Homo sapiens: one gene and its partner. The protein of the gene in region 2 interacts with the protein of the main gene of each other region in a pairwise test. Each region holds a gene or a part of one and is shown on either strand. Other genes may lie near its edges.

Region 1 (3,500 bases), on a different chromosome or scaffold from region 2:
ACACACACACAGCACATACCTGTGAATGAAAATTTTTCATGAAATGATTATTATTATACTTATTTTTCGTCAGCTGCTCTGCAATAAAGTCTGTTTTGTTTTGTTGTTTGTGCAAAAGCTGTTTTGTTCCAATTCATTGATTTCACATGCCATTGGTAAATAGAAACCCACAGTTTAAAAAAACGAACCAAACAAAACCTGGTTTAGGGAACTGTTGTTTCATGGAGCAAAAGTTTCTAAAAGGTGTATTTGGTTTAACTCGCTGAGTGTTTTTATAAAAAGCTTTTCTCTATGACTGACCTCAGCTTAAAGATCTATACCACAACTTACTAATAATGAGTTCCATGTAAAACTAAGCAGAATTCACAACTCTTTTGGGGTTCAGGTTATTCTATCATGAGACTTCTCCTTAAAGCTTCTAACCCTCTTCAGCCATTGCTTTAAGGCAGCCTGACTAGATTAAGTAAACAGAACTTGAACACAATGACTTAACTATACTTTATAAATTCATGATTGTTAAGCCACAAAATCAACCTTTCCAAATAAAACTGAGTGTAAGTCAAACTGCCAAGCGAAAAGAGCAGCTATGGAGCTCTCAACTCTCCCTTTTGTCATAGTTTATCTCTGTACAATGCCAGATAAAGCCCAGATGAGGAATAAAGTGATGTGACTATTGCTTTATACTTATTAAATCTCATCCGTTATTGTGGGACCATGCTGCCATCCTCCTCACCTGAGGTGCCCGATAATGATCACCCTAGCGGGGGGTTATAAGGCACCTTTGTTCGAAAGAAGTTTATAGAATTGGACTCAGAAAGGTACAGCTTGCCCTCCAGGGAAGCAAAGGAGAAAATTATATTTAATGCATATTAAACAAACAATTGTTGGAGATTATAAGCTACATCGATTCCAAGATCCCAAAATACTTGAGTCAGCTTACTCCAAAATGTTACCAGCCAGCCACTTTAAACATTAATGAGGTAGCTGGTTTCTAAAATCTGGAAGGAGGAGGAGGTTTTGTTTAAGCCAACTATTTCACAGAAGAGGAAATACAGTTCGACCTCAGGAAATTTAAATGAGACTGCTGAATAACTGGGAAAGAACATCTCCTGTGGATGACAGGGCAAAGAAGAATTAAGCTGATTTTAGGCCAAATAACAAATGTGACAGCTGTGCTTTTTTGTGTATGTATTGGTGTGTGATAGTGTATAATTTCTAGAAAAGCAGTTCTCATGCATTTGGGTCTTGAAAATTTCCACTTTTAAAAATTATTGAGAACTCCAAAGAACTCTTGCTTCTGTAGGCTGTATCTATCAATTTTTACCATTTTAAAAATTGAAACTAAGAAATTAAAAAAATATTGATTGAATCATTAAAAAAACTGTATTAACATAAAATATTTTTATTTAAAACATTGTTTTCAAAAAAGTTATTGAGAAGAGTATTATTGTTTTATATTACTGCAAATCTATTTAATACTTGGCTTAATAAATGGCACCTAGATTGTCATCTTTTCTCCATATACTCTATTGTGTTATGTTGTTTTGGTTGAAGTATGTGAAGCGAAGTTAGTTCACACAAATAAGTAATTGGAAAAGAGAGAACCTCATAGTCCCCTTAAAAGGATCTCAGGGGACTCCCAGGGATCCTTGGGGCACACTTTGAGAGCCACTGTCCTGAAAAGTAGTTTGGAAGACTATGTTAAGAATGGCTGTCCAGGAGTGGTGAGATTATTCACGATTCTTTTTTTCTTTTCTTTTCATTAGTATTTATTTTCTACAAGAAGATGGATTGCTTGTGCAAACTAAAAATGAGAAAGAAAGAACATACTCATGTTGAGGGCAGATTATGGAGGCCCTGGAAAAACCCAGGCAGAGGAGTTTACACTTGGGAGACCAAGGAGCCACTGTCATTTCTTAAATGGGAAAATGATAAGAGCTGTGTTTGGGAGTAAGTGAATTCGAATTGAAAGAGAGAAAGAGAGATGCTACTTCAGAGAAGTGGTGTGGTGAGTCAGACCTCAGGTGTTGGCAGAAATGGAGAGAAAGGACAAACTCCAAAGACTTTGAGGGCAGAATGACCTGAGACCTGGATATAGGAAATACAGGAGAGGGCAGAGTCAAAGACAACAGTTTTAAAATTAAAACATTTGAAGAATGTTTTTTCCCTTCTATCCAACTTTGGGGCCTGGTTCTGTTGCTCAGGCTGGAGTGCAGTGGCGCAGCCTTGACCTCCTGGGCTCGAGCCATTCACCCACTTGAGTAGCTGGGACTGTAGGTGTAGATTGCCTCTTTCTATCCAACTTCAACTTTTTCTGAATGTTACTCCGATTAAGCTAATTGAAGTCTTGTCGTGTTTTCCAGAGTTGGCCACCCTGTTCAAGGGCTTAGGAGAAAGTCAACACACTTCGCAACTTGAATTGGTCCCAGCTGCTCCCAGAAGAACGGGCGGGTTGGTCCCTATGCCACCCCTGGAGAGCTACTCGCCGCCCACTTTGCCGTGAAGGGCTGTGCGGTTCCCGTGCGCGCCGGAGCCTGCTGTGGCCTCTTATGCACTCCACCACCCCCATCAGCTCCCTCTTCTCCTTCACCAGCCCCGCAGTGAAGAGACTGCTAGGCTGGAAGCAAGGAGATGAAGAGGAAAAGTGGGCAGAGAAGGCAGTGGACTCTCTAGTGAAGAAGTTAAAGAAGAAGAAGGGAGCCATGGACGAGCTGGAGAGGGCTCTCAGCTGCCCGGGGCAGCCCAGCAAATGCGTCACGATTCCCCGCTCCCTGGACGGGCGGCTGCAGGTGTCCCACCGCAAGGGCCTGCCCCATGTGATTTACTGTCGCGTGTGGCGCTGGCCGGATCTGCAGTCCCACCACGAGCTGAAGCCGCTGGAGTGCTGTGAGTTCCCATTTGGCTCCAAGCAGAAAGAAGTGTGCATTAACCCTTACCACTACCGCCGGGTGGAGACTCCAGGTGGGTCGTCTTTACGACGTCAAGGTTTATTTTCAGAGTGAAGGTCGTGTGCCCCATTGATGGAGAATGATGGGGCACCAGCAGACAGGGACCTCTCCCAAAAGAGAGAGAGAGAAGAGAGGAGAGGGAGGTTCAGTTTTGAGGGACTCGTCCAAAATTTTGTTTCCCGGAATGAGGCAGCTGTCCAATCAAAGAAAGTTCCCATGAAAACGATATTCCTGCCTGGAATGCCACAGGAACACTCAATCCAAAGAGAATCGCAGTAAAACCCTGTTATAGCCAGTGTGAAGGAATGAAGATAAACTAGTCAGGAAAATCTAGAAAGAAGATATTTTCATTTGATTTCATTATGCTGGTAAGCTTTGTGTGATTTTGAAAATGAGGCAGATGGCTAATCGGAGAAAACTGCCATAAAAGTTTTATTTTGAGGTATCTGGGACAAGTCAACATAATCTTTTACCAGTTCTTGGGGTCCTGAAAGGTTTTAAAATGGCCTTGATAATGATGAGCTGTAAAAATTAAACATCCTCCTCCCCCCG
Region 2 (3,500 bases):
CTCCCAGCCCGGGAGCCGTCTGCCTGTGTGGGAGTTGAACGCTGGCTGTCCCGGTGGCACAGCCTAAGGAGAGGAGGCTTTTTTTTTTCCACAGGAAGTTTCAAACACGTGAAAACAAACTTTGGATGCTCTCTCCTCAGTGTGTGACATGGTGTATATAATACTGAAATATTGAACATAAATTGTTAGTTCTCTGTTGTTATAGGAGCTTCCCATATTCATTTTGAAATGAACATTCTAGCAGGTAATAACTATTTTGCATAATTTCAGTGTGTGATTATACCTGTAAGAGCACATCAGGATGATTTGTCTTTCTGTGAATTCCAGAATTACAAACGCCATATGGACGGCATGTACGGGCCCCCAGCCAAGCGCCACGAGGGCGACATGTACAACATGCAGTACAGCAGCCAGCAGCAGGAGATGTACAACCAGTATGGAGGCTCCTACTCGGGCCCGGACCGCAGGCCCATCCAGGGCCAGTACCCGTATCCCTACAGCAGGGAGAGGATGCAGGGCCCGGGGCAGATCCAGACACACGGAATCCCGCCTCAGATGATGGGCGGCCCGCTGCAGTCGTCCTCCAGTGAGGGGCCTCAGCAGAATATGTGGGCAGCACGCAATGATATGCCTTATCCCTACCAGAACAGGCAGGGCCCTGGCGGCCCTACACAGGCGCCCCCTTACCCAGGCATGAACCGCACAGACGATATGATGGTACCCGATCAGAGGATAAATCATGAGAGCCAGTGGCCTTCTCACGTCAGCCAGCGTCAGCCTTATATGTCGTCCTCAGCCTCCATGCAGCCCATCACACGCCCACCACAGCCGTCCTACCAGACGCCACCGTCACTGCCAAATCACATCTCCAGGGCGCCCAGCCCAGCGTCCTTCCAGCGCTCCCTGGAGAACCGCATGTCTCCAAGCAAGTCTCCTTTTCTGCCGTCTATGAAGATGCAGAAGGTCATGCCCACGGTCCCCACATCCCAGGTCACCGGGCCACCACCCCAACCACCCCCAATCAGAAGGGAGATCACCTTTCCTCCTGGCTCAGTAGAAGCATCACAACCAGTCTTGAAACAAAGGCGAAAGATTACCTCCAAAGATATCGGTAAGAATTCCAAAGCTTTCATTCTGAAATGAATTCCAGTTGCAGTGTAGAATTTTAATTTTAGTAAAGATGCTGTTCCTGCTCATCTTAAAGGGATGAAAAAATTATGACTAGAAGTTATCAAGATGCGTTTTTATATAGGAGTAATATAGTTGGAGGCTGCTAATCTGAATTAAGAAATAGTGCCAGAAAGATTGGCCGGGCGCGGTGGCTCATGCCTGTAATACCAGCACTTTGGGAGGCCCAGGCGGGTGGATCACGAGGTCACGAGATCGAGACCATCCTGGATAACACGGTGAAATAAAATGGTAGTTTTACGTGTGAATGTTATTTGTGTGAAAGATTAGAGCTTCAAGTAAGAGATCAGGGAATCCTGAGTGGTTATATGCTGTATTTTGGGCTTAAAGATTTGAACTTAACCAAGCCACTTAATCACTACAATACGTGCCTAACAGACCCCCCCATGAGGCTAATGAAATGCTAAAGGTGACCTGAGAAAATCTGAAGGCAAGCCACTCTGTAATTTGGTGACAACATACAGTGAATTTCCGTGGGAAAAAGTTAAAGCTTGTATGTAATATGTAGATTGATAGATGGTATGACATAAAGAATATGCTATGCTGTGATACATAGAACTGATATCATCCAATGCACTGGTAGACTTGGGCCAAGAACCATGTCAATCGAATGCTGATGTTGCTTGTTTATCCTCTGTGGGATGTTCTGAATACTAATCAGAGGTCTGGACTATCTGGAAGTACACACAGGGTTTCTGCATTATTTTTGAAGTACTTTTAACACAGGAAGGAAGATAATAGATCTGAGTTATATTAGGAAAAATTACTCAAAAAATATCAAGAACAAATTGACTTAAAATCTTTTTCAGTGATTAGAAAATTAAAGATATTAATAATTTGAAAGACATCAATCACTGGACATTAAGGAGATGTAGATTGAGAGACCAGGGCAGGAGAATCACTTGAACTCAGGAATTCGAGACCACCCTTGGACAACCTAGCAAAACCTCGTCTCTACTAAAAAGAAAAAAAATTAGCCAAAAGTGAGATTCATTTCTGTAGTCCCAGCTATTCAGGAGGCTGAGGTAGGAGGATCACTTGAGCCCAGGAGATCAAGGCTTCAGCAGTGACTGTGCCACTGTATACACACACACACACACACATATTCCTTTATATATATCTATCCATTTATATATAATGCATGTGTATCTATATCCCTTTATATATATATATAGATAGATATAAATATAGATATATAGATATATATAGAATATGTGTGTGTGTGTATTTATATGGGGTTGCAGAGGGAGAGAAGGAGACACAGACACTGAGCACCATTTTATATATAGAAATATATACACACACACACACGTGTATTGTGTGTTTATGTGTGTATATGTATGTTTAAATAAATACATCTAAATTTTCTAAAAATCTCCCAGTGCGGGTTATATAGCATTTGTCTTCAACCTAGGGAAATTTACATGTTTATTTTTAAAAGTAATTTTGATTTTTTTATTGTAAAAACAGTATGTAGCTATCTTAGAAAATTTTAAAACAGATAAAATAAAAGTGGAAAAGCCACGGTGTCTCCCCCTCATGCAATGATTCTTGGTGCCTGGAGAATGCCCCCAGCCTCCAGGCAGCTCCAGGGATCTGGCCGAGCTGGGTCTCATGGCAAATCTTCCAAACTTTCTACCTGATCATTTTGTTTCCTTCAGTAGCAGGAATAGGGAAAACAACAAATTACTTCCCATTCTGTGGCTCCAGCCATACTCCTGAGAAATCTGAGCCATCAAAGTGCTAATATTTATCACAGCATGTTCTGAGGGCAGGAGCACAGGACTAGAGGAAAGCAGCCTGGGAAGCCAAGGCCGTGTGTCTGAGGAGGCTGTCTTGGAGTTAAATTTTGCTTCCATGTTCTGCATACTTGGCGGCCTTCCAGGACGCCACCTTGAGACACTCGTGAGTGGTGAAGCCAAAAGAAGACAAATACCACTTTTGGGTTTGACTCATTTATTAAAAGCTCTGATACCACATTGCAGACTCTGTAGGGTGGCTGAAAGAAATAACCCGGCCATGAGAAAGGACCATCTGTGCTCAACCACTCCACCTCCAGAAGCACTTTCGGCCCCTGCGTGACCAACAAAGCGAGATCTGAAACCACAAAAGTTTCTCGTTACAGCTATGGCCTCCATTTAAAATCGGAAATGATCACGCTTAACTGTCCTTGAGAGCATTTGTTTAAAGTCAATATTTAACTTAACACTCCACTTATTTTTTCTTACTCTTTCGTTAACTTTCGTTCTTTCATGCATAGAGTCAACATTCATGATATCCTTGTTCTTCCCCATCTTCAGTTACTCCTGAGG

Evidence for each region. Proteins that work in one complex are often made in the same cells at the same time.
Region 1: the proteins of ARID1B (region 2) and SMAD9 interact in a two-hybrid assay, tested with the Homo sapiens proteins (one large-scale study listed by BioGRID and IntAct).

Annotation. Positions count from the first base shown.
Region 1 is NC_000013.11:36,878,739-36,882,238, reverse strand, and holds part of SMAD9 (mothers against decapentaplegic homolog 9), read left to right. Parts: intron 1-1,461; exon of another isoform or gene 1,462-1,950; intron 1,951-2,363; 5' UTR 2,364-2,549; coding exon 2,550-2,961; intron 2,962-3,500. UniProt on the Homo sapiens protein: Transcriptional modulator activated by BMP (bone morphogenetic proteins) type 1 receptor kinase. SMAD9 is a receptor-regulated SMAD (R-SMAD).
Region 2 is NC_000006.12:157,200,378-157,203,877, forward strand, and holds part of ARID1B (AT-rich interactive domain-containing protein 1B), read left to right. Parts: intron 1-327; coding exon 328-1,111; intron 1,112-3,488; coding exon 3,489-3,500. UniProt on the Homo sapiens protein: Involved in transcriptional activation and repression of select genes by chromatin remodeling (alteration of DNA-nucleosome topology).